Linked DNA regions of Homo sapiens: region 1 is linked to region 2. Evidence: fine-mapped expression QTL. A gene starts in region 2. The other region holds a variant in brackets. All regions are shown on one strand. Distances are from middle to middle.

Region 1 (14,898 bases), 91 kb after region 2:
TCTGCCTAGGAAAACCAGAGACGTTTATTCACATGTTTATCTGCTGACCTTCCCTCCACTATTGTCCTATGACCCTGCCAAATCCCCCTCTCCGAGAAACACCCAAGAATGATCAATAAATACTAAAAAAATTAAAAAAAAAAGTGCTTTCCAGAATTAGCCAGATGTGGTTGTGTGTGCTGTAGTGTCAGCTACTTGGGAGGCTGAAGTGGGAGGATCGCTTAAGCCCAGGAGTTTCAGGTTGCAGTGAGCTGTGTTTGTGTTACTGCACTCCAACCTGGGTGTCAGAGAGTCTCATAAAAAAAATTATATATATATAAAAGAAGAAGGCAGCTAAGCTAGGGAATAATTCTACGCATGGGCCACAAAGGCAGAAGGCAGCCCTTTGGGCAATGGACTGGGCAGTTTAGCAGATAGAAATCGGCCAAGGCATTGAAACACTTGGTTTCTGAGCCCAGCTTCATTCAGGCCTTGCTGACGGACCGCAAATAAATCCCAGCCCCCTCCTCATGTAGTCTCTCCACTGTTTGGGATGGAGACTCTAGACCTAGGAGCTTAGGCACAGTGATGAGGCAGGAGAAAGTCACTTCCTTTTCCCTGGTCCCTGGGCAAAACTTTATTCCCCCTTCTTCATCTTGCCTTGCCTACTTTCCCTCCCCACTCTCTGCTCTGCGAACTAGGCTCTTGGGGAGATTGAGGTGCTGCGAGGGCTGCCCAGGAGGGGCCCCATCTGAAGGTAAAGCCCCACCAGGCCTTTATCCGTGGTCTTTGATCCTGTCTTCTCTCTCACTCTTGCTCTCACTCCCACTCACTCTGCACCTCATGGTGGATCCATTTTTCTTCTGATCTCCTGTCAGCTTTATTCTGTCTGCTCACCCACTTTTCTGCCCATATTCTCAACCACTTTCTCAAAGGCAGCTGTCCCGCTGGTCCCAGCTCTTTGCTCCTAGAGCCCAGAACTCGGGTGAGTGGAACCACCCTGGTGTCCGTTAAGTCCCCAGCCTTGAGGAAGGTCCTGCCATTTTCCCTCAACTCCCCTGGCTAATCTTCCTGTTCAGAGGAGTTTTCTGGGCGGGAAGGAGAGCTGGGCTGTTCCTGTGGCCTCTCCCACAGCTTTCCTGCTGCGGCCTTTGTCTTTGCCTGGATGCTTCCTGGGGCAGCACGAGCCCTCCTCTGGCCCCGTCCTCCAGTCTGGCCTTGGGGACATGGCGGTGGCAATGGCACAGCATGACTGAGCTTGTTTTGTTGGTGCTCTCAGGTTTTGGTTCCGTCCGGGGCCTTCTGTTTTGGGCAGTGCTCTGCAAACATCTGGTGACCCTGCTGGACAACTCCCTGATCGTCGTCCTCGCCCTGGCAGCCTCTGCCTGCGCTGGCCCACGCACTTCCTCCTGCACCACTTCTCCTTAGGGGAGGTCCCACGCCACAGCGGCGGAGTCTCGGATGCAGGCCGATTCCCTTCCCCCGCCGCACTAGCCCACCGGTAGGCGGCTTCCCGCTGCTGGGTTTCTTCGCCCTCCCTGGCATCGCCGAATGCGCTTGCGCAGGGCCATGGCCTCCGCCGCTGTGACGCCATCTGCCGGCCGCTGCATTCTACTACCTGAGGAGCCCTAGTCTTCCGAGCCCGCTTCGCCTTCACCTTGCCCTTCTGCGGCGCAGCACCACCCGCTACTTCCGGCTGGATTCTCGGCCTGTGCTGAGACCTTTAAAATAACACTGATTTTCTTAACTTTTGCAAACTATGCATCTGACAAAGGTCTAATATCCAACATATATAAAGAACTTCGGGAGGCTGAGGCAGGAGAATGGTGAGAACCCGGGAGGCGGAGCTTGCAGTGAGCCGAGATTGCACCACTGCACTCCAGCCTGGGCAACAGAGTGAGACTCCATCTCAAAAAAAAAAAGAACTTAAATTTATAAGAAAAAAAACCAAACAATCCTACTAAAAAGTGGGCAAAAGACATGAATAGACACTTTTCAAAAGAAGACATACATGCAGTCAACAAGCTTATGAAAAAAAGCTCAACATCGCTGATCATTAGGGAAACGCAAATCAAAACCATAATGAGATACCACCTCACACCAGTCAGAATGGCTATTACTAAAAAGCAAAAAACAAAAACAAAACAGATGCTAATGAGGTTGTGGAGAAAAAGGAACACTTGTATACTGCTGATGGGAGTGTAAATTAGTTCAACCATTGTGGAAGACAGTGTGGCAAGGAAGAGAAGAATGGGGAAGGTATAGATACTTAATATTCTTATGATGCAGAAAGGATCCAATGAAGACACAAACTCACTTTTCCTCAGTTTACCAAGGACTGGGTGGGACATATTTGGACTGGAAGTACACTATGAATACCAGGGAGCAAAAAGCCCATGTCTGTCCTTGGGAGTAGGGGACATCAAAGAAGAGAATAGATTTCTTTCTTTTAGTGGAAAGTCTAGGAGTAGAGGATAAGGAGCTGGCTAAGGAAGGCTGACCAGAAGGCTGGGTTGTAGATAGCACTATGACAGGGTGGTTTGGAGCTTGCCTCTGGTGGTTGGCAAGTCCAAGATCAAATCCTGATCATCACTTACCATCTGAAATAGTGGGAGTTTTCTTTACATCTTTGTGCCTTAAATTCTGCATCTGTAAAGTCATGACAATAATCGTTTCTATGTATCACAGGGTTGCTGTGAGGATTAAACACAGCCTTCCTCAGCCATTCTATACCACATCATCACTTGACATATAAATTAACTTGTTTGTTTGTGGCTTCTCTCCTTTCATTAAAATGAGATGTACCATAAAGGGGGAAGGGAAGAAACTGCCTGTCTTGTTTACCAGTGTATCCCTAGTGCCTGGCACATAGTAGGTATTCAGGAAATATTTGCTGAATCGATAAGTAAATGAATATATGAAAGCTGCTTAGCACAGTGCATGTAGGTAATAGTGTTCACTAATCTATTTCGATTATACTATAATTGCTACTACTATCATTTGCCTTCTTATGAACTTTGATGATGACTTTCAGAGCAGTTTTTAGATGTCTTAAAAGTTTGAGACTTTGTTAAAAAAATCCCCCTAAAGTTGCTGGAAAGTTTAAAATGTGTTAATGCTGAAGAGAGGAAGGGGAGAAGTGTGTGTGGGATTTGGGGAAGAGAGTTTTTGGAAAAGAGGAAATCCTGGTGTGAGCTATGAGGGGGATAACTCAGAAAGGATCAGATGGGCCATAGGGGCCATGAAAGAGGAGGAAAGAAGCAGGTGAACAATTCTGGGTTAGAGAAAACCTGACTCTGGTAGCTCAAGGAGTTGAGAGGAATCTTGGAAAACCAGGCTTAGGCAATGATCAGGTACCAAAAGAAGCTGAGAGGCCAGAACCACAGGCCAGGTCATAGCACAGGGGTGGTTGGCTAGGATGCTGCAGGCACTGCTGGCACTGTTGCCCGTGACTCCTCTGGCACCGTGCAGGTGCTGAGGCTGCTGCTGGTGGGCCTGGATGCCACTGTGGTCATCACCAAAATGAATTGTAAACTTTACTTCTTTGAATCACTTGCACCTGATTCAAAGTCTTAGGCAGTTGCATCTGCTAGGACTAGCTAAGATCACAGGGCTGTGTCTCGGCTGTCAGAGTTTAGAGAATCCACAAATTTGGGCCTAATGGCTTCTGTAGAAGTGGATAGAGCTTTGTCCCCCACAAGCTCTATCCACTTAGAGCTTGGGGGGAAGACCCTGTTAAGTTCATGGATGGCCTCCTTTCCTGCCATTATGACCCTTCTATTTGTAGGCCTATTAAGAATGAACTGGGGCCAAGCTCAGTGGTCCACACCTGTAATCCTAGCAATTTTGGAAGGCCAAGGTGGGAGGATCACTTGAGGCTAGGAGTGCAAGACCAGCCTGAGTAACATAGCGAGCCCTCATCTTTACAAAAGTAAAAATAAAAAATTAGTTGGAGGTCATGGCATGTGCCTGTGGTCCTAGCTATTTGGGTGGCTGAGGCGGGAGGATCACTTGAGCCTAGGAGTTCGAAGCTGCAATGAGCCTTGATTTTACCACTGCACTCCAGCCTGGGCGACAGAGCAAGCTCCTGCTCCCACATCCCCATACCCCCCAAAAAGATTGATTTGCTGGAGAATGAGGTATATGCAACCTCCTTTTGTTTTCAGGCTGTGCTTGGGCCCCATCTGATTTTACCAATTTCACTTGTCTATTAAGTGCTATTGGGGATACTTAACTTTAGGGTGAGTGGGTCAAATTACACCCAATTCATGGTGTGCAATACTGTTCCATAGTCACCTGGTGTCCAGTGGTCAGCTGTTCAGTGTATACTGTTGCCTACAAGCAGCCCAAGAGCAGTTTCACAAAAGGATCTTGATTGTTTGCCCCAAAGGGCAAGGTTTGGCTCCCAAATCTGTGATTCACCTCTTGGATTTACCGCAGGCTCCAGTGCCACTGACACTGAGCCTCTTACAGTCTGCTGGGCAGTTGGGAGGCCCAGTGGCGGAACTGCAGCGTGGGCCACTGGGAGAGCATTTGCTTCCTCTGGCTTTTAGGACATCCGATAAGTGGGTTGAAGCAGCCAACCCAAAAGGACTATATGTCGCTTCCCAAATCCAGATAACTACAAGAGGTCTTTTCTTACTGTAGGGAGCAAAAGGTGAGGCAACTTGTCCGTAACATTTGAGGAGATACCCTGATATCCCCAGAAAACCTTCACAGAGAGGCCAGGCCCCTAAATTTATCTCCTAGTTATAAATGTACATCAAGGGTACCTGCCATTTTCCTCTCTCCAGATGCTGTCAGTGTAGTTTCATCAATAGAATGGACCAGTGTGGTGCTCTACGGGGTGGTGACCTGATGAAGGTGCCTGTGGATTTGGTGGCGCAGAGCGAGAAAGCCGATGTAACCCTGAGGCAGGATAAGAAGGGTGACCTTGTGCCCTGCCAGGCAACAGCAAGTGGCTTCTGGAATCTTCTCTGCTTATGAGACGGGAAAAATTGCATTTTCTTTCTCAAGATTTGCATACCCAGTCCAGATGAGAGGAAGTGGCTTCCAGCAGAGGAGGCTCTCCTGTCCCCGCCCCCCACACCGTGTGTCACTGATCTCATTTTCTTGCCTCTGTTTATGCTCCTTAGCTCCTTGGCTGCCCTCATCTTTCTACTTTCTCTAAACTCACGTTTTTGGAGGGAGAATTGAAAGCATGGGCTCTAGAGCTGGAAACTCAAGTCTGTTATTTCCTAGCTGTGTTACCTAGGGAAAGTTGTTTAATGTCTCTGTGCCTCGGTTTCCTCAACTGGTTGAAATTGGCATAACAATAGAGTTGACCTACAGGTGGACCTACTGTCAAGCTTAAGCTTTTGGGGCTCTTCATTTGTATGGGTTCCTCATAAAGGTGTGGAAAGAGCCTTAGCAATTGTGTTCCTGTGGTCAAATGTCCTTATATAAATTGCAGAAGTGATGTGTTAACTGCAGGCTGTTGTAATGTCTGTCTTTTTCACTCTTGCTTCCTCTCTGTCACATTTCCTCTTCTTCTGGGGGGTGTTGAAGTAGCCATGGATATTTTTTATTAAATAGAGCTGTCTTAAATTGTATGAGCTTTAGGTCCCATAAAATTGAGATCTGTACCTCGTAGAGTTTTTATGGGGATTAAATAAGACAGTTACAGGTTAAGAGGTTAGTATAGTCTTTGGTACCTAGCATGTATGTGATGTTACCTATTCTTATTACTATTCATTCTGGTTTGACTGTCTTTCCATGCTTCCTGTTCAGATTCTAATCATCTCCAAGTTCTGCCTGCTCCAGATCACTGCACCGTATCTCTCTATCTTTTCAGTAGAGAGTGTCTTGGCCACCTGGATCCTGGTTGCAGCAGTGGCATCTCTGGGGGACATTTGTCTTTTTTTCTGTCTGTCCAGTGCCTTTGGAACACCCTTTCAATGTTTGGGAAGTTTTATGCCTCACTGGTCTTCATTCCCCAAGGTAAATTGCTTTTCCAGATTCTACAGAGGAGGATGCAGAATTCACCATCTAATGAGCTTGTAGGGAAGGCATCTGGCAGAGCCCAGGCCTGTCGTCCCGAGAGCCAGCTGTAGGCACTGGGCAGTGCTGTGTGAACTGTGCTGCCAGTGCCGTGGAGTTGACACTGGAGCTGCCCTTGCGGGTGCTGAGTGTCACCCTGGCCACACGGCTGGTAAACCTGTTCCCCTTGGAGACGCTGTGCACTGTGAAATCTTCTTTGAATAATTAGTCTCTGCTTAAGATGATCAGAGTGGAATCTGTCGTTTGCAACTAAGTGCCCTGACTGATGGACTGGTTTGTGGTCTCTGTGTCTCTTTTTGGTGCCTCTATTACCTATTTTCCATACCACAGCTAGAGTGATCTTTTAAAAACTCAAACCTGGTCTTGTCACTGAGGATGAGCCCCCAAGTTCTCAAGTGGCCCACAACATCCTTATGGTCTGTACCCAGTGGAGGTGGGAGCACTAGTAATTACCCTGATCCTTAGGCTTTCCACAAGGTGAAGGGATTTTTTATTCCACTCCCAGAGAGAAACAAGTGTAGAAACACTTCCTGCCGTCCTCTCTGGCCCCTGACTTGCTTCTTCATAGGTGGAGGAGTGACCTTAGTTACTCATGGTACTGTAGAGAGCATTTTTGCCTTCTTTGGTTTTTCTTTCAGGCTGTCTTGCCTTTGGCCACATGTACTCTTTTCCCTTCAAATGGTGAGCCCCTGCTTGGAGTGACCTGTAATTTGTATGGATCCTCTGTCTGTAACTGGGTGATAGTGGTGAATGCAGGGAGTATGACATTTATTTTGTTTTATTATTTTAATTAAAAAAACCTAAATAGAGGCAGGGTCTCGCTATGTTGGCCAGGCTGATTTCAAACTCTTAGTCTTAAGCAATCCTCCTGCCTTGGCCTTCCAAAGTGCTGGGATTACAGGCATGAGCCACTGCACCTGGCCTATTATTTTAATTGATACATAATAATTGTACATATTTGTGGGGTACACTGTGATGTTTTAATACATGTATACACTTGTGTAATAAGTAAATCAAGATATTTAGCATATTGTAAACTAAAGATGAAATCCCACGCCCCCCACCCACTGAGAAACCTTAAAAACGGAGTCCTCAGCCATGATGGCTGCTTTCATGACTGACATGGACCTCTGGCTACCGGTGCAGCCATGGCAATCACTGTGCTCAGGGATCCAGAACAATCTAGAAGATGGAATAGAAGGTCAGACACACTTTATTGTACCTCCTCTCTTCTATGGTTTAGACACAACAATTGACCAGCATTAATGTTAAAATAGAGGTCATGAGATTGACAGAATAGACTCTTTGTGGCAATAATATATCAAATTATGAACAGGACTTAAGGCCATGCCAGGCAAAGGTTAAGTCACACATTCCTACACTTAAAGAATAAACTATGTTCTAACTGCCACAAGGTTTTCCTTTTTCTCTAGCAGCTAAACAAGCTCTGGCTTCGAGATAAGCAATAGCAAAACAGTTGTAGCTCCTCCACCACCAGACACTTACTGGCTGACTCCCCTGTTCCACAAGCCATAACTACAGCTTTGATTGGCCAAATGATTGATTTCAGTAACTTTCTCCTGATAAGAAGACCACTGCCCAGGGGCTGCTTCTGGCCAGTTTACAGAGGCTGCACACTTGAATGCCTTTGTGTCTCTGCTTCACCTTTTGATGTAAGGGTCTAAATTGTAATGCACGTAAATGTTAAGTTTGCACCCCAAGGTGAACATGGGTCATATGCTACATATATGTTTATTTAGCACCTACATGTTAGGACCACCTTCAGGAATATTCCTAGCTCCTCCCGTAACCTACTGAATGTGTACAC[C/T]TGGCCAACCTGCTTAGCACATAAATCCCTGTTCCACCTGCCTCTCCCTCGAAGTGCCTGCCTTTTGGGCTTTGGCTGGAGCCTATGCTTCCCAGCCTGTTAGAATGGCCACCTTACATGCTGTAACAGTTTTTAAGAAATAAAGCCTCCTGCTGGGGGCGGTGGCTCACGCCTGTAATCCTAGCACTTTGGGAGGCCAAGGTGGATGGATCACTTGAGCTCAGGAGTTCGAAACTAGCCTGGGCCACATGGTGAAGCCCCGTTTCTACAAAAAAACAAAAACAGACAAAAAAACCCCAAAATTAGCTGGTATGGCAGCATGTGCCTGTAGTCCCAGCTACTTGGGAAGCTGAGGCTGGAGGATCACTTGAACCAGGGAGGCTGAGGTTGCAGTGAGCCAAGATCATACCACTGCATTCCAGCCTGGGTGACAAAGTGAGACCCTGTCTTAGAAAAAAAAAAAAAAAGAAATCTCCCTTTCTAAATTTATAATTACCTTATGCCTTTATCATTTCTTTGTGGTGAAAACATTCAAAATTCTCTATTCTAGCTATTTTGAAATCTACAATACAATATTGTTACCTGAGGTCACCCTATGGTGCCATAGAACACTAGAACTTATTCCTTCTAAACGTACCTTTGTATCCACTGACCAATCCCTCCCTATGTCCCCTTCCCCACTTCCTTCTCCAGGCTCTGGTAACCACCATTCTACTCTCTATTTCTAGGAATGAGAACAACTTCATGAGACTTATTTTGACTGGATCATCTGAGGTCAGGAGTTCTAGACCAGCCTGGCCAACATAGTGAAACCCCATCTCTACTGAAAATACAGAATTAGCCGGGCGTGCCTGTAATCTCAGCTACTTGGGAAGCTGAGGCAGGAGAATTGCTTAAACCTGGGAGGTGGTGGAGGTTGCAGTGAGCCGAGACTGCGTCTTTGCACTGCAGCCTGGGCGACAAGAGCAAAACTTCATCAAAAAAAAAAAAAAAAAAAGAAAAAAGAAAAGAAAGAAGTGGGTGCAGAGGCTGGGCTACAGAAGAACACACTGATTCCCATGGCTGAATACTCCTTCGCACAAGAGCAGAGCCTCTGTGAGGGATAAGGACTCCTTGAAGATCACAGGGGTGGTAAGAGGGAAGACTGGGTTCCCATCATTTCCTGAACAGCTCATGTTATTGATGAAATGTTGAGGTCTCTCCTCACTGAAAGCCAGAGTTTCTGGCATTTCTTGGCTAGAGGACACAAAGGTGGTAATGATGTGTGAGAGGTGAGGGAATAGAGGGGACGTGGAACAGCCTGTCTTTTTGCCTCGGCCTTCTGCTGCCCTTTAGCTATGGGGGGCTCCAGGGAATAAAGCAGGAGAAACATCTGTCCCTGGGCTGAGGGAAGTGGGCAGCCGGTGGCACCTCAGCACAGAGGGATGGGAGTGTTTTCCTTCCACCTTGTCTTGCTTCTGGCTCCCTGGTTAGCTCCAGCTCTGGATCCTGCCTCTCAAGCTGGTGGGTCTTCTGGAATCCCTGACCAGCTCTTTCCCAAAAGCACCCACAGTAGGACACCCCAGTGTGTTTCTGGGAGACATGTATAGGCTGTCCTGGGAGATAACTTTTCCTGATGTTTAACTTGGTCCTTTTTGATACCATCTGACCATCTTCCCTTTTGTGCTGGTATCTTGGGAAGGAGAGAGCCTTATGACTGGAACCCTCAGATGCCCCTCTTCCTGAAGGCCAAGGGGAGAACAGATGTTCCACTGAGTAGAGGAAAGCTCAGACACAGGTGGTGGAAGAAAATGTAACAGAGGGGCTAGGTAAACTCCTCCACAGGCTTTGGGTGGGCCACTTAGTTGGATGTCAAGTTCACAGACACCTGCTTTCATGACTGACATGGACCTCTGGCTACCGGTGCAGCCATGGCAATCACTGTGCTCAGGGATCCAGAACAATCTAGAAGATGCTAAATAAATGTCCTTTCCCTAGGGCAGCAATCACTTTCATTCTACCTTGACCTAATAACCCATGCTCTGATAGTGAGTGTGGACTCTGGGATAAGAGGCAATATGTAGATTTATCTCTGTTTTAATTTCAGCACTTTCTTCCAGGAAGCCTTTTCCTTTGAGGTGCTGCATGATTTCTGTGAGAGTGGGGTTTAAATCCAGTCCCTGAAGAGTGGGAGGATGAGCACTGAGTGAGTGAGCAGACATCCGAGTCCCTTCAGGGTGAGGGGCGCTGCCTCTTCACCAAGTGTCGCAGGGCCCTCCTCACGTCCTTGTTCCGAAGGGTGTAGATGATGGGGTTGAGCATGGGTGTGATGACTGTGTAGAAGAGACTGAGGACGCGGTCTGTGGTAACAGAGGAGCCTGCCTGCGGCCGGATGTAGGTGATGCTGGCTGTTCCAAAGAAGAGAGAGACCACGAGCAGATGGGAGGAGCAGGTGGAGAAGACCTTGCGGCGGCTCTGGGTGGAGGCCATTGCTAGGATGGCACCCAGGATGCGGATGTAAGAGGTGACAATCAGAGAGAAGGGGATCATAATGAAGACTATGGTGGCTGTCATCACGGAGATCTCGCTCCTGTGCTTCCCAGCACTTGCCAGCCTCAGTACTGGCAGGATGTCACAGAGAAAGTGCGGGATGATCGGGTGGCTGCGAAAAGGTAGAGAGAAGATGAGGGAGGCATGGGTGGTGGCCGTGATGATGCCTGTGAGCCAGGAGGTACCCACCATGGCCATGCAGGCCCGTGGGCTCAAGAGGGTGGAATAGCGTAGGGGCTGGCAGATGGCAACATATCGGTCATAGGCCATGGCCGTGAGCAGGCAGCACTCCGAGATGCCCAGGACAATGAAGACGTACATCTGGGCTGCACAGCCCTGGAAAGAGATGGCCTGGGGATGCGGGGAGCCCAGATTGGCCAGGGTCCTGGGCACGATGTCAGTGGTGTAGAAGAGCTCCACCACTGAGAGTTGGCGCAGGAAGAAGTACATGGGGGAGTGCAGGGCAGGGCTGACCTGTGTGAGGAGGATGATCAGGGAGTTACCCAGCAAGGTGACCAGGTAGACCAGAAGCACCACCCAGAACAGGGGGCCCTGCAGGGCCTTGAGGTCAGAGAATCCCAGAAGGAGGAATTCAGGCAGTGTAGTATGGTTTTCCCCAGCCATCACTCCAGGCCAGAAGCTGAGGCACAGCCAAGAAGAGAAGTTATTTAGAAATAACAAGCAACATTTCTGTAATTTGGTAAAGCACTTGCCACACAGTTCCTCTCAAAATCAAGTGAGAGAATTAATACCTTTCTCTGAATGAGCCATGGGTCTCAGAGAGATTAAATAATGTGTCTGAGGTAATATCTAGAAAGTGGCAGGCCTGGAACTTGAATCCAGGTCTCTTGACTCCAAATTCGACGCCTTTCTCACTGTTTCCTGGGCTCTCGTCCTGTGTCTGGGGCCTGACTCTCATATGTAAAGACTCTAGCTCTGATCTTTGGATCTCTCTCCAGAGTGAGGGGTGAAGCAGCTGCTATGACCTAGGCCCCTTTGTACTCTCTAGATGGATGCTGAGGCACAAAAGAAACTGGGTAGCACCAGGGACTGTCCCGAACTGGTGTCTAATGTTCACCATAGTGAGCTGTGGGTTAAGAGTGTCACACAGTGATATGACTATTTGTGATAATACTGCCCAATGGTATCATTGGGATTCTGACACCTTCCCTGATTTCTCTGTTCTCCTCTTATCTGGGGCCCTGTGATCAGCTACACTAGCTGTTCTGTCCCAGCACACCCTGTTCTGTCAGGCCTCCATGCATTGCCATAGTGTCTCCTTTCAGAGGATATTTCTATTCTTCATATTAAAATCCCATCACACTTCAAGCCTTCACTCAAGTTTCGCTATCTCGGTGGCAGCTTTCTGTGATCCTCAGGCTCAGAAATAATTATCCATGGCATTTCAAGATTAAAAGTGACATTTAGGAACATATATTTCCATATGACAGTACTTGGATCTTATCTTCAACATTTTAGAAGGGTGCTGTGCAGAGTCTGTTTGAACATCTGCAGTGATGGGGAACTCACCACCTATTGAGGTAGCCCTTTCTAGCTATGGCCTCTTCTGCCTGTAGGAAAAGACTTTACTGTATTGGTCTTGGCTAAATGCTTAGTATTTCATACAATATTTAACTCCTCTTGCACCAGAGAGCCCTTGAGTATTTGAGGAAGGCACTTTTATCTCTGCTTTCATGAGATGTTGCTTGTCCTTTTGTCCTAGCACTTATTACTCCACTGTGAGATCCTGCAGGACGTGGTGGGGAGGTGGGGAGGCAGTTACCTATTTTAGCAGCTGCTAATGTTTCCCAAGTGCTTGGTTCCTGCCAGGCACCATGCTAAGGGCTAAACATTCATTAAATCATTGGATCTTCCTAATTACACTACGACATAGAAACCTTCATTTTCTCCATTTTACAGATAAGGAGAGGGAAGCCCAGACAGTGTTAAGTAACTTTCTCAATGTCACACATTTTGTAAGTGACAGAGTTTGGGTTCAAATCCAGGTCTGCCTAACCCCAGAGCCTGTGATCTTAACCACCAAGTTATCAACTGCCTTGGAGGTTAATCACCAGTCAAAAAAAAAAAAAAAAAAAAAAAAAGAAAAAAAAAAAAACCAAGGCCAGGCGCAGTGGCTCACGCCTGTAATCCCAGCACTTTGGGAGGCTGAGGTGGGTGGATCACGAGGTCAGGAGATCGAGACCATCTTGGCTAACGCGGTGAAACCCCGTCTCTACTAAAAATACAAAAAATAAGCTGGGCGTGGTGGTGGGCGCCTGTAGTCCCAGCTACTCAGGAGGCTGAGGCAGTAGAATGACGTGAACTCAGAAGGTGGAGCTTGCAGTGAGCCGAGATCGTGCCACTGCACTCCAGCCTGGGCGACAGAGTGAGACTCTGCCTCAAAAAAAAAAAAAAAAAAAAAAAAGAGGTTAATCACCAGAAAAACAAGCTCAGTACTTGGACCATGTCGAGTGTTCGCTAAACATTTATTAGATGAGTGAACGAATCTCAGTTATAAAGACAGAGGAACTGATAAATAGAACAATTAAGTGATTTGCCTAAATTTAGGCAGCTAGTTTGACAAAGACAGGAAACTGGACTGGACTTTCAGAAGTCCTGGTCCCAAGATTCACGGAGCTTTGATCACCCATATTGACCCACGCCATGAGGTTAGTCTGGCCATCTTCATATTTAGGAAACAGAGCCTCAAAGTTCTATCCATTGCACTTAACTTTCATCCCACCCTCACTCTGCTCTCTCAACATATTTTTTTTTTTGTGGCCTTAAACCATTTATTCTAGCTTATGTTTGGAGAGTGCTGTGTGCTGGGGATTATACAGTATATCAGTTGACCTTTATAACAACATTAGTGACAATTGTTATTTTGTCATTGCAGATAAAGAACCAGAGCTCTGAGGGTTTAAACGACCTATGCAAGATCACAAAGTCAGTGAACAGCAGAACCAGAATTGTAATTTTGAGCCTGAGGTATCAACCACATACTTACTATATGTCTTGTGAGGCCAATAGCCTCACTCTACACTTTTGGGAGATGAACTTGCATGTAGTCAGTTTGGACAGAAGGAGTATCTGAGTTCATTAGTCCTCTCTACTTTCGTCCATAAATCTTCATGACATTTTGGGCTGGCTGATTAAAAAGGAAAAAAAAACTTTTCAGATGTCCACACCACCAAGAAAACACGAAATAGATCCTGATGTTTTCAAATTTTTAAAATGTTGTTTTTTTCAATTAAAAATATTTAGGAAACATTTGGAATAAATCCACCATTATTCCATCACCTTAAATTCTTTTTTTCTCATATATCACTCTCAAGTCTTTGTCCCACTGCAAACCCATATTCTATGCTTGTAGTCATAGTGTATATACCTTATGTCTTCTTTTCCTTTTTTAATGTTTGCTGTAAGCATTTTGCCATGAGACCGCATGGTATTCTGAACAATCTTTCAAAAAAAATTCTTGTAGTAGTCCATTGAATTTCTCCACTAACATTTAACAAACGCTTCTCATCCTTGTGCACTTTACGCTGTCCCATCTTTTTTTTGCTATGGTAGACAATGATGAAAACAATATTTTCATGTGTGTCTCAGTTTGCTCTGTTAGCTTATTCCCTTAGGGTAAATTAAGAGTAATATTATTGGCTAAGCATGTGGACATTTTTATGGGTCTCGCTGTGTTATAATTGTTTTGGATTCCTGTAGCTGGACACATGAGTGGCAATACCAACCTTTCATCTCTTAGTAAAACAGGTCCCTTAAAAAAAATTCAATAGCTTTAGGGGTACTAGTGGTTTTTGGTTACATGGATGAATTGTATAGTGATGAAGTCTGGCATTTTAGTGCACCCGTCATCCAAATAGTGTACATTGTGCCAATAGGATTTTTTTTTTTTTTTCCCCTCAGCCCTCTCTCACCCTGTCCTCTTCTGGACTCCTTGACCCTCCCTGTCCTCATCCAGGCCTGTCCCTCCCTCCATACTCACCTCACCTTTTCCACACTGTGAGCATTTCTTCACTCTCAGACCTCTAATTAGATTTTGCCTTAAGATGTCGTCCGTGAGGGTGGAGAGGCAAGTTTCCCCCAGATTGTCTGTTCTTCCTTCCCTATTTCCACTCTGACTCTGATAATTTCCCTTTTCCTCTTCCCACACATCCTGACACAGTTGGGACAATCTTCAGAGAGACATTGGCCCTGAAGTCACCACTAAACTTTTCAAAGCCTCCCACAGAGGATCGCTGAGAAAGACAGAGTAACTGCCCGCAGGGTCACAGAGAGGGGATGAAGTTCTTTTTAAAAAACACTATTTTTTATTGTGGTGAAAACATATAACATAAAATTTACTATCTTAACCATTTTAAGTGTATGTCTCAGTATTGTTAAGTATATTCAACAGAGCTCTAGAACTTTTTCATTTTGCAAAATGAAAACTCTATACCCATTAAGCAATTCTCCATTTCCCCCTTCCGTGGCTCTTTTTAAAACCATAAAACCATCCGTATACCTCC
Region 2 (14,898 bases):
TGTCCTAGTCTCCCTGGCAACTGTCTTCCTGCCAAGGGTGCCCCTCTCCCAGAGTTACCCAGGCAACCTTCAGGCCCGCCTTCTTCAAGGTCCTGACTGGTTCATAGCAAATGTGGGTCGCAGCCTAAGGGAGGCATTTAGGCTTAAAATGTATGAGCTGCCGGGAGAGAAGGAGGCTGTGTTCCGGGGGAGGGTATGAGGTTTCAAGACCTGCTAGAGAGAGAGGTGCTTGGGTAGATGGTCTGCTATATCCTCAGGAAGAGCTGCAGCTCCCTGGAGCCTGTCACCGGGGTCTGAGGCCAGAGTTGCCTGGACCATGATCAGAAGTGCTGCTGCCAGAACAGGGGAACCATTGTAAGGGAACCCTGTAAGGGGGGACTCCCGCCACCCTGCACCTTCACCACAATGGCCACCTCCACACCCAAACTGCCTTGTCTATCAGAGCTAGGCTCAGTGGGGAGTAGCTATTTTTCTCCCCTCCCTAGGGAGGATCCCTAATCCTATCTCTTCTTCCTTTTTTCTCCTAAAGTTTCTATTTTGAGGGTCAGTGGACTCATTCTTTGGCACTGCAGGGCTTTCTAAGGAGGGGAGGGGCTACATCTCGTTGAGATGTAGCAGAGGGGAGAGGCTTACTCCCCGGCTCTCCTGCTCTCCCTGCATGTGCCTCTGGGGGAGTGGGGAGGCTATTCTGGGCTAGGGGGTGGTGTGTTAGTAGAGTGGACCCCTTCCAGTCCTCTGCCCACAAATCCTGCAGCTCCAGAGAGGATGTCACTGTAATTACTGTCCTCTCCCACACCACCTTCTAAATCCTATAATTATCTTGCCGGGATCACTTGGCAGTCTTGTTAACCTCTTTAGCCCCAAGGCCCTCTAAGAGAAGTTGGGAGTTGGGAGAAGGGGGCCAAAGAGTTTGCGTTTGGGGTGGGGGGCAGTGTGGCAGGATACAACTGGGGGACTCTAAGAATCATTTGGGGTTATGTCTTCCTTTGCCTCTGGCCTCCCTCCTGCTTATCCCCAATCTGTCCCCTCTCTCCTCATGGCAGGCCAGCTCTACAACTCCACTGGGTGCAAGCTGCTGCTTATCTTCATTCTTGGCCTCCCTGGGGTCCCCACCTCTTCCCTGAGTTCTCACCTACTGCTCCCTCTCTGGGCCCATGGTGGGTCCTCATTACAGGCCCTGTTTCTGGCAGTGGCCAATGCTGCCAGCAGGAGGCACCACTATTCCAGCTGCTGCTCCAGGAAAAGAACGGGTCTAAGTGCAATGTCAGCTTCTCCAAGGACCTTAAAATGCTGGCAGATGGGCTGATCCAGGAGGCGACAAAGCAGTACCTGGGCTGCCAGGTGAGGGAGCTGTTGGGAAGCAGGGGGGAACTGCAGGAGTGTTCAGAGGGAATTCTCTCTCCAGAGGGAATGAAGGAGAAAGCAGAGGGTAGTGAAGGTCAAAGTTGTCAGATGAGGGGCATGTGTGTGTGTGTGAACGGTGAGGGTGTCAGGACGACCAGCGGGTCTGGCTGGGATCTGGGAATGGGAGCCTGAAATTGGTGAGGGCAGGAGAAACTGGTCTGGGCTCTACCGAGGGGTGCCAGCACTCCTCACCCCTAGTTCCCTGGGCTGCAAGACCACATCCATGGGGAACAACCCAACAAATTTGAGAACAGCCTGGGTGAGTCTGCCACAGGCCCTTCTTCTTTGGCAGGTATCTCAGGTCCTCTGCTGCCCCACTGCATCCCCCAGCCTGTGCTAGGCAGCTTCCAGAACCCAGGGGTTCTCTTTGTCATAGCCCTCTCACCACACTGTATTTTTTGTCTGTGCCTATAAGGTTGTAAGCACCCTGAAGGCAGGGACATGTCTTACTTATCTCCATGTTTAGGCTCCCCATACATGGATTAATACATGAATGAATTTTTCCTGAGCCCCTGCCTAGGCCTCTTGGCCTTTTAGTCCCAAGGAACAGAAACCTGAGATAACCACCCAGTCCCAGCATCACCTCTTTGTCATTTCTCCTATGTTTATCTCTGTTCCATCCTAGGAAAAACTTTAGTTGTGAGGCTCTGTGACTCTCAGGTAGATACCTCTGTGCTCCTGTGCCTGGTTCTGGGCCAGAACCACACAGCAGCTAAGATCCTGGCCAAGGGAGTGCATAAACAAGACATGAACCTGGACGAGGCTCTCAAGCAGGATGGGCTGGAGCTGTTCATCCTGCCCACTCACCAGCTGGGCATTTGGATGGACCTCGTTGTTAATGATGGCACTGGCTGGGAAGAGACTGGGACAGGAGTGACAATGAGGGGCCAGAGGTCAGGAACTAGGGGCCCAAGAAATGGGGAAAGGAATTGAGGCGGGCCCTGAGGACAGATCCTGGTGGGGGTGGGGCTGGAGTGTGGGGTTGCCAGAGGAGCTAGACCTTGGGGCTTGAATTGGGGGGTCTAGGCCAAGGCCAAGGCCAAGGTGAGTGTGAGGGGCAGAAGGAGGCTGGATTGTCCCTCCCACCCCTACCTTGGCTATGTCAGTTGGGGTGGGGTATCCAGATATTTCTCAAAGCAAAATCATTTTAATTCCCATGAGTCTGAAAACAGGGTATGATAAAGCCTCATCATTCTTTTTTGTTTGTTTTTTGAGGTCTTTGGAGAAGGACCTCAAAACGCTGGCAGATGGGCTGATCCAGGAGTGTTGCTCTGTTGCCCAGGCTGGAGTGCAGTGGCATGATCTCGGCTCACTGCAGGCTCCGTCTCCCGGTTTCAAGCAATGTTCCTGCCTCAGCCTCCCGAGTAGCTAGGACTGCAGGCACATGCCACCATGCCCAGCTAATTTTTTTGTATTTTTAGTAGAGACAGGGTTTCGCCATGTTGGCCAGGCTGGTCTTGAACTCCTGACGTCAGGTGATCCACCCGCCTCGGCCTCCCAAAGTGTTGGGATTACAGGTGTGAGCCACTGCGTCCGACCGTTTTTGTTTTTATAGAGATGGGGTTTTACCGTCTTGCCCAGGCTGATCTCGAACTCCTGGGCTCCTACCTCAGCCTCTCAAAGTGTTGGGATTACAGGTGTGAGCCACCACATCCAGCCAAGCCTTACCGTTCCTTTTTTTTGTTTTGTTTTGTTTTGTTTTTTTGGGACGGAGTTTCCCTCTTGTTGCTCAGGCTGGAGTGCAATGGCACCATCTTGGCTCACGGCAACCTCCGTCTCCCGGGTTCCAGTGATTCTCCTGCTTCAGCCTCCCCAGTAGCTGGGATTACAGGCATGTGCCACCACACCCAGCTAATTTGTATTTTTAGTAGAGACGGGGGCCTGTCCATGTTGGTCAGGCTGGTCTTGAACTCCTGACCTCAGGTGATCCGCCCGCCTCAGCCTCCCAAAGTGCTGGTATTACAGGTGTGAGCCACTGTGCCCAGCCACCATTTTTCTGTTATTTTTTTATTTTTTTGAGATGGAGTCTTGCTCTGTCACCCAGGCTGGAGTGCAGTGCTGTGATCTCACTGCAACCTCTGCCTCCCAGGTTCAAGCAATTCTCCTGCCTCAGCCTCCCGAGTAGCTGGGACTACAGGTGCATGCCACCACGCCCGGCTAATTTTTTGTATTTTAGTAGAGATGGAATTTCACTGTGTTGTCCAGGCTGGTCTCAAACTCCTGAGCTCAGGCTATCCATCCACCTCAGCCTCCCAAAGTGCTAGGTCACAGGCATGAGCCACTGCACTCGGCCTGGCCACCATTCTTAAAGTAATAAAACCAATTCCCTTAGTTTATTCTGTGATCCTCACAACTGCCCTGTGAGGTGGGGAAGGGAGTTGTTTCCCTCCTACTCAACTGGGAGAAAGCTGAGGCTCAGGGAGAGAGGTCACCCCATTCATGAGCAGCAGAACCAGGTCTCACACCAGGGCTTCTGGCCTCAGAGAGCTTCTTGCTGGCGGCAGGTGTGACAGCACTGGAGTGGTACATCAAGACCCTGGCAGGGTGTGGTGGTTCACGCCTGTAATCCCAGCACTTTGGGAGGCCAAGGCAGGTGGATCACTTGAGGTCAGGAGTTCAAGACCAGCCTGACCAACATGGTGAAACCCCGTCTCTACTAAAAATACAAAAAGTTAGCCAGCGTGGTGGTGGGCACCTATAATCCCAGCTATTCAGGAGGCTGAGGCAGGAGAATCGCTTGAACCTGGGAGGCAAAGGTTGCAGTGAGCTGAGATCGCGCCATTGCACTCCAACCTGGGCAACAAGAGCGAAACTCTGTCGGAAAAAAATAAAAAAGAATTAAAAAAATTAGCTAGGTGTGGTGGCGGGCTACAGCCTGTAATCCCGGCTACTCGGGAGGCTGAGGCAGGAGAATCACTTGAAACTGGTAGGCGGAGGTTTTGGGGAGCTGAGTGCCACTACACTTCAGCCTGGGTGACAGAGTGAGACTTCATCTCAAAAAAAAAAAAAAAAAGACCCAGATTCTTACGTGCAGGTTGATCTGTTGACCCTGAGTGAGTGGCTTTACCTCTCTGAGCCCCACTTTCCTGGAAGTGAGATAAAAAAGGGACTTTGGCAATATGTTCTTCTGGATACCATGGTAATGTAGTCTTGCCAATTATGAAGGGTGTGGCCTCCCCCAAAAAGTTGGAGCAGAGATGGCCACCCAGTGACTGGAAGACTCCTTTTTTTTTTTTTTTGAGATGGAGTCTCACTCTGTTGCCCAAGCTGGAGTGCAGTGGCATGATCTTGACTCACTGCAACCTCTGCCTTCCAGGTTCAAGCAATTTTCCTGCCTCAGCTTCCTGAGTAGCTGGGATTATAGGTGTGCACCACCACGCCCGGCTAATTTTTTTTTTTTTTTGAGACAGAGTCTCGCTCTGTTGCCCAGGCTGGAGTGCAATGGCGTGTTCTCAGCTCACTGCAACCGCCGCCTCCCGGGGTTAGAGTGATTCTCCTGCCTCAGCCTCCTGAGTAGCTGGGATTACAGGCGTGCGCCACAATGCCCGGCTAATTTTTGTATTTTTTAGTGGAGACGGGGTTTCACCACGTTGGTCAGGCTGTCTCGAACTTCTGACCTCGTGATCCGCCTGCCTTGGCCTCCCAAAGTGCTGGGATTACAGGCGTGAGTCACCGCCCTGGCCACACCTGGCTAATTTTTGTATTTGTAGTAGAGATGGGGTTTCACTGTGTTGTCCAGGCTGGTCTCAAACTCTTGACCTCAGGTGATCCACCCGCCTCGGCCTCCCAAAGTGCTAGGATTATAGGCGTGAGCCACCGCGCCTGGCCTGGAGACTCCTTTGTGTTCCCCAGTCTCCACCAACCAGTAAATACATAGTGGTGATGTCGCCATGGAGCCCGTGCACAGTACTCCCCTGGGGGCTGCACTCAGTGCTGGTGCTGGGGCATATAACCTACTCTCTGGAGAGCCCTGCGGGATGGTCTATGAGCTTTTCTGCCAGCAGGACCTGCAAACGCGCAGGTGCAGCCCCTCCTTCACCCTGCGATCTGAGAGATGCCATCAAGCACCGTGCCTCTATCCTTATCCAAAGCTGAGGCCTCTGGACTTAAATTTCAGGCCCCCATTTCAGACCCAACCTCTGGACCTTGAATTTTATCCACCACTCTCCTTACCCTCCCAGTGGGGGGATGGCTTTGATGATGCATCCTTGTTTCCTTCTTCCCTCCCATCCCTATCTCTTCCTCTTCCCTCTCCCCACTCCTCTCTTACACCTATTTTTCAAAAATTAAAGAAAATGTTTTTTAAACTGAAGCCCAAGAAGCATTGATCCTTCATGTATTTTTGCCTCCTCTTCCCCCATCCTTCCCCATGCCTCCCACCCTCCTCTATGTCTCTCACTTTCCGGTTTTTCCTCACCCCTCTCCCAACTCTCCTCAACTGTTCTTTTCCCTTGATTCTGGATCCCTTCTTTCTTCCTCACCTTCCTCATATCCCCTCACCCTCCTCATATCCCCTCACCCTTTCCTGTGCTTAGATGCAGGCTACAAGCTGCTGTGCATGGCACTGGGTCTGGCTGATGCCTACATGCTCTCAGAAGGCTGCAGGTTTGCTTGAGACATCTGTGGCCCCCATGCTGTGTCGCTGGGCCTAGGTGGAGGCGTGGTGAAGCTGGAGGGAAAGCTGGCTTTGCTTGGTGTGGAGGGACAAGGGTCCCCGCCTCAGCACACCTACCACCAACTGGTGCCAGGCAACCAAGAGGCAGCAGCCTGGGCCAGCCAGGACGGCTTGGTGGCATATCTGGATGTCAGGCACTTGGAACAGGTGCTGGGGGATCTGAAGGATGTGAAGGGCCAGGTCTGAGATCAGCCACTTCCCACTAAGAGGCCCCTCTATCCTGCACCCCAGCAAACACATGGAGCTCTGTGTCAACTTTCCAGGCTGTAGAAGTGGGCCATTCTTTGTGTGTATGTGTGTAGTAAAATATATATAACATAAAATTCAGGGACATTGAGTACATACACATTGTGCAACCATCAGCACCATCCATCTCCACAACATTTTCATCTTTCTTTCTTTTTCTTTGAGACAGAGTCTCGCTCTGTTGCCCAGGCTGGAGTGCAATGGCACAATATCGGCTCTACTAAAAATACAAAATTATCCAGGCATGGTGGCGCATGCCTGTAATCCCGGCTACTCAGGAGGCTGAGGCAGGAGAATCTCTTGAACCTGGGAGGCAGAGGTTGTGGTGAGTTGTGCCACTGCACTCCAGCCTGGGCAACAAGAGCAAAACTCCATCTCAAAAACAAAAACAAAAACAAAAAACCTAGATGTTTATGGTTAAGGAAACAAATTAATAATAATAAAAAAGATAATATCGATTCTTACAAAATACAGTAATTAAGAAAATTAATCCTTTATCACAAACTTTTGTAGCAGAGCACATCTCTCCATATATACAAGCATTATACCGAGGGTGAATGTGTTCCTCCTCTTACTTTTTTTTTTTGAGACAGAGTTTTGCCGGGCACAGTGGCTCACGCCTGTAATCCCAGCACTTTGGAAGGCTGAGGGGGCGGATCACGAGGTCAATAGATGGAGACCATCCTGGCCAATATGGTGAAACCCCATCTCTACTAAAAACACAAAAATTAGCTGGGCGTAGTGGTGCGTGCCTGTAGTCCCAGCTACTTGGGAGGCTGAGGCAGGAGAATCACTTGAACACGGGAGGCGGAGGTTGCAGTGAGCCAAGATGGCACCACTGCACTCCACCCTGGTGACAGAGCGAGACTCCGTCTCAAAAAAAAAAAAAAAAAAAAGAGAGACGGAGTTTCACTCTTGTTGCCCAGGATGGCATGCAGCAACACGATCTCTGCTCACTGCAACCTCTGCCTCCTGGGTTCAAGTGATTCTCCTGCCTCAGCCTCCTGAGTAGCTGGGACTACAGGCACACATCATTGTGCCCAGCTACTTTTTGTATTTTTAGTAGAGACGGGGTTTCACCGTGTTGGCCAGGCTGGTCTCGAACTCCTGACCTCAGGTGATCCACCTGCCTAGGCCTCCCAAAATGCTGGGATTACAGGTGTGGTGAGCCACTGCGCCTAGCCCCTCCTCTTACTTTGGGGAACATCCTACTCTGTCTATGGAGCAGCTGTTGTTTCACCACTTTACTTTCTTAATAAACTTGCTTATACTTTGCACTGCGACTCGCCCTGAATCTTTCTTGCATGAGATCCAAGAACCCTCTCTTGTGGTCTGGATTGGGACCCCTTTCCTGTAACAAATGCATTGGCTGATAGGAGAATAAAGAAAAAAAAAGAGGAAAAACTAGAGTAACTTCTCTACATAATCATATTATATGACCGTTTTGTTAACCATGATAACAGTTAACAAAATAATTTTCTTATGTCTAATTCTCAGTCCATGTCTGTATGTCCCAAAATGTCTTTCACAGCTGGTTTGTTCAACCATTCAATGAAGGACCAAACATTGCAGTTGGTTGTTATGTATCTAGTCTCTCAATCTTGATCTTCAGACCACCTTCAGCCCATCTCACCACATCCGTCCCAAGCCCTTTGAGCCAGCCAACCCCAACCTGCCATGTACTTTACAAAATGCTCCTTTTTTTTCCACAGTCGACTGCTTCTCTGTCCCTGGAGCTCTCCCCTTTATTCTCCAAGGTCACCTTGAGCACATCCTTCTGCTCCGTGAAATCCATTCTCCTCTCCCTTTCCCTCCCTCTGAGCTTAACCAGCTGCCACCGCAGGCTTCTGCCTTTCTTCACAGTGTGGCCAGAACTCGGTTCTGCCTGCTAGCAGAGGGCAGGGCCGCTGTCTTCCTCTCCTTGCAGCCCCCAAGCCTAGCACATGCCTGGCATCTAGTGGCAGCACAATAAGGAACCTGATGAATACTCCTTTCTTCTGCTCTCCGCTCCTCCTCCACAGCCTGCCAGCCATGGTCAGGAAGAGCAAGATCCGGAATGGGCTTGGTGTGTCCCGCGGGAAGGCCGTGATCCTGGAAGATGCTTCTCAGCCCAGCCCGGATCTCCTTCCTTTAGCTCTAGAGACTTCTTTCATTCTTTGTGTACACACATACACTAAGACTCAGGAAGTGGTTCTTGAGGCAGGACCTTAAGAGCCCAAGGAGTGGGGCCGAGGCTGGAGGTGTGGGGGTGTGACGGCCGGTCCTACTCTCCGGCCTGTTCAGATCAGCTCCTTCTGGGGACCACCCCTGGCACACAAGGGAGGGAGGCAGCTTGATCCCCCTAGCCCGCTTCCAGCCCTCACCTGGCTTTGTCTTCTGGGATAAGACGGGGAAATCCAGAGGATGTAAGCCTCTCCTGCCTTCGTGTCTTCCCCCAAGCCCTCGCTATCACAGACGGATGCAGGAGCTGTCTGGGAGGCTGGAAGCACAGACCTTGTCAATCCTCCCCCAGAGGGCGGGACCCGACGCGGACGTGTCTTGATTGACTGGGTAGCGTGGCTTCGGGGAAGGGCTTCCTCCCCTTTTCTCAGACTAGGATCCCTGGAAAATGGAGAAGCTGTGCTAATAGAGGGGGGCCAGAAATCCCCACTCTAGAATGCTGTAGAATGTTGGGAGACACCCAGGATGTGAGCCAGGGACTTTCTGGAAGTGTTTGTTCTGGCCCCACCCGACCCCAGGCAGTCCCCAGCTGTCTGCACAGTCGGATGGGGAGGGGGCTTGCACAGAGTTGGAGCCAGAGGAGAGAGCTGGCTCATCCCCTACGGTAGGATGGGGAAACCTCACAGACCACATTGTCACCCGGCCTCAGCTCTCCGCCCCGGCGCTCAGAGGGTAACTCTCACCCACCTCGTCCGCTTCTCTGAACCAGAGTGACCCAGGCTGCGCTCCGCCCCGCTCTCCTACCCCGAGTTGGCACGGAGGTATAGCGCCAGAGGGGGGCCCCAGGCGCCCCGAGGTCTTGCCCTTGCGGCTTTCCCTTTGCGGGGGTGGGCGCCTTCTTCCGGGTAGGGGCCACGTGGCCCTGGCCGGGCGGGGGGCTCGGCCCACCCCGCGCCGGGCCCAGTGACTCAGGCCGCAGCTGTTACCGCGTCACATGAGGGAGGCCGGCGGCCACTCGGCGGGGGAGGGGACCGTGGCTGGAGCCCGGGGCGGGGCCGCGCGGCAGGCGGGGCGGGAGCCGGGGGGCGCAGCTAGAGAGCCCCGGAGCCGCGGCGGGAGAGGAACGCGCAGCCAGCCTTGGGAAGCCCAGGTGAGGCCGCGGGGACCCGGCGGACTTCGGCGCGGGCTGGGAGAGACCACCCGCAGTCCCTTCCTCCAGGGCTCGCCCCAGGCCCGCGGAGACTCGTCCGGCGCTCTCCAGCCGCCCTGGAGCAACTTTGCTTCGAAGTTCCCTGGGCCCGGGCAGGGTGTGGCGGGGGTGCTGGCTGCACTTTTTTTTTTTTTGGTGGGCGGGGAGGTCAGAGCCCAGGGGAAAGGGGCTGGGGCGGGGGTCGGGGTTGGGCTGAAGACCGTTTCTCCAGGCTGGGTGTTGGGTGGGGAAAGGGTGTTTGACGCCCGGAGACTGGCGGGCCGAGGGTCGGCGTCAGGCTCAAGCCCCTGCCGGCGCCCTTGGATCTGTCCTGGGCCCCAGAGGCGGCGGGGCGGGGTCCGGGCTTCGCGGCCGTCGCCCCCACCCCTCTCCTGCGGGTAAAGAGGGGGCTGGGAGACGTGGATCCGACCGCGGGTTTCCGGGTGGGAGGGGCCGGGAATCGGGGCCGTGAAGGGAAGCCCTCGAGGGCCGGCCGGGAGCCCGGAAACCGAGGTCCCCCTTCGGCCAGTTTTAATCCCCCCGCCCTCCCCTCTGCCCCAGGCCCGGCAGCCATGGCGGTGGAAGGAGGAATGAAATGTGTGAAGTTCTTGCTCTACGTCCTCCTGCTGGCCTTTTGCGTGAGTGGCGAGGGGTCCTGGGGGGCGCGCCGGCAGGGTGCGGGGAGACCTGGCTCCACAGTGGTGAGGGCTGAGGGAATGAGAATTAAGGCAGCTGGAGACCAGATGTGGAAAGAAAGCCAGGGAAAGACAGCGCAGCCACTCCCTCCTCCAGTTTTCCTGGACACCTGAGGCTTGTTTCCACCGAGAATGGCCATCCTGGGTGTGCAGCAACCCCTACCCCCATCCCTCCTGGCCCTTCCTGTCTGGTGACCCAACCACTTGTGATATGGGGCAGTGGGGCAACCAGCCAACCGCCTGATGCTATCGCCATGGGGCTTCCCTTCGCTCTCCCTTCTCCCCTCTCTCCCTCCCCAACCCTCTCATCCCTGTCCAGCCCCTCTCCCCCTTTCCCTCCTCCCAGCGCTTGGGGGTGAGGAAGGGCTCTGCCCACTTCAATTTGCTCCTGCCCTGGGCTCCTGGCTTGAGAGGCTACTGTTTGTCTAGGGAGGGACACATCACTCTTGCTCCCTTTTCCTCTTCCCTTCTCCTGGCCTAACTGGCCAGAGGAACCTTAGTCACAGCTGATGCGCGCGTGGGATGTGCACTGGAGGATAGTGAGGGGGCAGTTCTGGGAGAGAATTGAGCTGGGAGCCCTGGAGGCCTGTAGAAAGCATTATTCTAGGTCAGAAATACGTGTCTTGAGGTCAAGGCTTTCTGGGAGGTTTTTGAATTTGGTCATGTCCCTGATTAAAGAGCCGGGAGGGGATCAGGGGAGGTAGGGGCAGGCAAGGATGGGTCATCCCCCTACCCCACAGCCAAAGAAATTCCCTAGAGGTGTGAGAATCTCTCTTCCGGATGGGGTCAAGTCTGTGTCCTAGGTGTACCCCCTGCCCTCCACCATGGAGGGCCACTGTGTTGTGGATATGGCCTAATCCTCACCTGATTTTCTCTTAGGCCTGTGCAGTGGGACTGATTGCCGTGGGTGTCGGGGCACAGCTTGTCCTGAGTCAGACCATAATCCAGGGGGCTACCCCTGGCTCTCTGTTGCCAGTGGTCATCATCGCAGTGGGTGTCTTCCTCTTCCTGGTGGCTTTTGTGGGCTGCTGCGGGGCCTGCAAGGAGAACTATTGTCTTATGATCACGGTGAGTTGGGGGCGGGACCAACATGGGCGGTCTGGGACTGCCAGAGCAGCTTGGTTCGGGCTCAGGAAGGTGGGTGAGGTGGGTGGGTGAGGAAGACCTTTGTGAGTGTCCAGGGACCGGCTGTGCCAAAACGGGCCCCTGTAATGCATAGACTCCAAACTTGACTTCTGTCCTTTGCTCCTGCAGTTTGCCATCTTTCTGTCTCTTATCATGTTGGTGGAGGTGGCCGCAGCCATTGCTGGCTATGTGTTTAGAGATAAGGTAAGCAGGGAATAATGGGAAGGGCCTGCCTCAGCCGGGTCTGGGACCCTGGTGCTTGAATTCTGACTGCAACAGTGCTCCTCCGTACTCTCAGGTGATGTCAGAGTTTAATAACAACTTCCGGCAGCAGATGGAGAATTACCCGAAAAACAACCACACTGCTTCGATCCTGGACAGGATGCAGGCAGATGTGAGTGGGGTTGCTGGGAGCAGGGGTGGTGGGAATAGAGAATTCTCATCTCCAAGGCTGGGTGTGGTGACTCACGCCTGTAATCTCAGCACTTTTGAAGGCCGAGGTGGGCAGATCACCTGAGGTCAGAAGTTCAAGACTAGCCTGGCCAACGTGGTGAAACCCTGTCTCTACTAAAAATACAAAAATTAGCCAGGTGTGGTGGTGAGTGCCTGTAATCCCACCTACTCAGGAGGGTGAGGCAGGAGAATCGCTTGAACCCGGGAGGCGGAGGTTGCAGTGAGCCGAGATTGAGCCACCGCTGGGCACTTGTCTGGGCAACAGAGCAAGTCTCTGTCTCAAAAAAAAAAAAAAAAAAAAAAAAAGAATTCTCATCTCCATATTGAAGGTGAAGGTTCACTTAACAACCTTCTTCTCCATATTTCTTCCCTCCCCCAGTTTAAGTGCTGTGGGGCTGCTAACTACACAGATTGGGAGAAAATCCCTTCCATGTCGAAGAACCGAGTCCCCGACTCCTGCTGCATTAATGTTACTGTGGGCTGTGGGATTAATTTCAACGAGAAGGCGATCCATAAGGAGGTAGGGAGGAGACTGTGTATGGGACTTGGGAAACCTGGGAAATGTTTTAGAATGCAAGAGACCCAGGATGGAGGTGGACAGGGTCAGGGATGGGGAGGGGATCTGGAAATGCTAAGGGTGGGGTGAAAGGTACAGGGGCAGGGAAGAGACTGATGGACCAAGGGAGGGGGTTGGGGTGGGAAGTTTCTGATGGTGCTTTTGTCCTTTGTGCCTGCCACCTTCAGGGCTGTGTGGAGAAGATTGGGGGCTGGCTGAGGAAAAATGTGCTGGTGGTAGCTGCAGCAGCCCTTGGAATTGCTTTTGTCGAGGTAAGAGATAACCCTGAGCAGGGGCTGGGACTCTGTCCAGGGTGCCTGGAGGGAAGGGGCTGAGGGGAGGAGGGTGCTGAACAGGAGGTACTGGCCTGGGAGTGTGTGTTTGGAGTCTCTTGCATGGGTCTGAGGTAGCTAGCCCTTCTGACTCCTCTCCACCCCTGTCCCCATCTTTCCTTCTAGGTTTTGGGAATTGTCTTTGCCTGCTGCCTCGTGAAGAGTATCAGAAGTGGCTACGAGGTGATGTAGGGGTCTGGTCTCCTCAGCCTCCTCATCTGGGGGAGTGGAATAGTATCCTCCAGGTTTTTCAATTAAACGGATTATTTTTTCAGACCGAAAAGAGATGGTCTGAGTTTGTCTTAGAGTGATGCTTGATTCCTTCCTTTCCTTACTGATGTTCCCTGTCCTCTGGGACCTTAATGCATGTGTACTTCGAGGTCTATTTTGGGGGGTGTTTGGGAAAGGAGGACTTTGCGAAGGTGTTGGTTGGGCAGGCAGTGGGAGAAGTGAGGATCCAGAGACTGTGGTGCTTTCTGCCCCCTAGTCTTATGCTGCCAGGCTCACTATGAACATTCATGAAGCCATCTGCTGCATAAGTCAAAGCAGCTCCCCAGAAAGGTCCCACCTGCGAGAGCCCAGCCCCCATCTGCCTTGGACATCTTCCTGGCCTTCTGTGCACCGCTAAGGGCCCAGCACCTCCCTTCCTGGCCAATCCTCAAGGGATCCAGCTCCTTTCGAAGTATGATAAGTTGCCTTGACACCTGTGTGGTCAGTGTCCTTAGCAGGAGAATTTATGTGAATATTGCCTTTTCTTCCATGGAAGCCACCCAGCCTGGCCCAGAACCCTCATCACCTGCTCTTCTCCCCCAAGAAATATGAAGACCATTCCCAGTACAGACACTGAATTGCAACCTTACTCCCCTTCAGAAAATAAGGGAAATGTATTAAAGTGCCCTTTGATGGCCACTCCCCGACGTGCAGCTGTAGATGTGAGGCAGTTCCCTGGCGCCCCACTGTGGGTGCTAGCTGTTTTGCAGGGACTGAACAGGCCAGAGACCGTGAGCATGTCGGTTTGGAGTAGTTGGCACTTAAATGGGGTCAGCCTTCCACTGGGCACATTTCTGCCCACCTTCTTTTTATTTTTTAAACAATACACTTTTGTTAGTGCTTATTTTGTGGCAGGCACCAGGCAGTACCAGGGTGGGGGCAGAAATAAATCAAAGTCCTTGTCCTTGAAAAACAATCTCTTGCTGGAAGGCTGGATTCAGTAGACTGCTTGGGCAGGCTTGGGAAGGACCCAGGTGAGCACAGCATCCACCAGGCTGGCTGGCAGGTAGGAGGCAGGCAGCCAGAGCAGCTTGGCATCCCAACCTGGGCTGTAGCGGGTTCGGGGGTGTCGAGCAGTCAGGGCATGCTCCAGGCATCGGCTCACCTTGGTTAGGTCCGGGTCACAGATCAGGTTCATGATGCGCTGTTGCATTTTCAGGTCTGCAGCCCCATAGGTGGTTGCAATCAGTTTCCCTTCCTCACTCCAGCCCATCTTAGGTACTGTCTTCTGGGGCCCTGGGCTTGTCACCCTCAGTCCCCTCCTCAGTGTGGGGAGTGGGCAGGTTCCACATGGCCTGGGCACTCTTGTAACATCCTGTTCACCCTCAACCCTGCCCTGGGTGCCCCACCCACCTCCTAGCAGGCTTATGCAGGACTGGCCTTTCTGGTACTTGTTTCCCTTCATGTGCCCCTGTGTGGGCCTGGCTACTCACACTTGGTGAGGAAGGCCCCCCCATAGTGGGCCTGTGTGGCAGGAGGCAGCCGTGCCCAGCAGGCCTGCAGGGTTTTCTCCAGACTCTCCAGGTTGGTCACAGGGGTTCGGAAGAAGCCAGGCTCCACGATGGAGACTCGTATCCCAAAATGAGCTACATCCCGCCTAGAGTCGGGGCAGAGCGAAGTTGCTGGGTTCTTGCCCTATAGGGAGGGGACTTTGAGGGACATGGGTTGGGGAGCTGAGAAAGTTACCACAGACCAGGGACAAGAGTTTTGACGGAGATGCCTACTGCCCCGGGACAAGGGTCAAGTGGGGTAGAGGGAGGAAAGTATTTTTGAGGTTTGTTTTCTTTGATCTA

The links. PIP is the estimated chance that this variant, and not a neighbour inherited with it, causes the effect. A credible set is the group of variants that fine-mapping cannot tell apart.
Region 1: its variant is the best candidate, but not a certain one, in a credible set for the expression of CD63 in whole blood (INTERVAL, PIP 0.56).

Annotation. Positions count from the first base shown.
Region 1 is chr12:55,632,993-55,647,890 of GRCh38, reverse strand. OR10P1 (olfactory receptor family 10 subfamily P member 1) reads right to left here and starts at 10,999. Exons shown (of 1, transcript NM_206899.1): 1 at 10,058-10,999. The coding sequence starts at 10,999. The coding sequence ends at 10,058. It also overlaps the pseudogene OR10AE3P. RefSeq lists enhancers at 1,255-1,714, 10,661-11,162. The variant C/T (reference allele first, on the strand shown) is at 7,847.
Region 2 is chr12:55,723,690-55,738,587 of GRCh38, reverse strand. It overlaps CD63 (CD63 molecule), which reads left to right and starts at 9,579. Exons shown (of 8, transcript NM_001780.6): 1 at 9,579-9,635; 2 at 10,236-10,312; 3 at 11,249-11,437; 4 at 11,624-11,698; 5 at 11,793-11,888; 6 at 12,327-12,467; 7 at 12,692-12,775; 8 at 12,962-13,265. The coding sequence starts at 10,247. The coding sequence ends at 13,027. It overlaps RDH5 (retinol dehydrogenase 5), which reads right to left. Exons shown (of 5, transcript NM_002905.5): 4 at 14,539-14,702; 5 at 13,883-14,266. The coding sequence ends at 14,043. It overlaps BLOC1S1-RDH5 (BLOC1S1-RDH5 readthrough), which reads right to left. Exons shown (of 6, transcript NR_037658.1): 5 at 14,539-14,702; 6 at 13,846-14,266. It overlaps CD63-AS1 (CD63 antisense RNA 1), which reads right to left and starts at 9,494. Exons shown (of 2, transcript NR_183514.1): 1 at 9,233-9,494; 2 at 7,736-8,926. RefSeq lists enhancers at 83-402, 9,147-9,753 and silencers at 9,233-9,612, 9,883-10,182.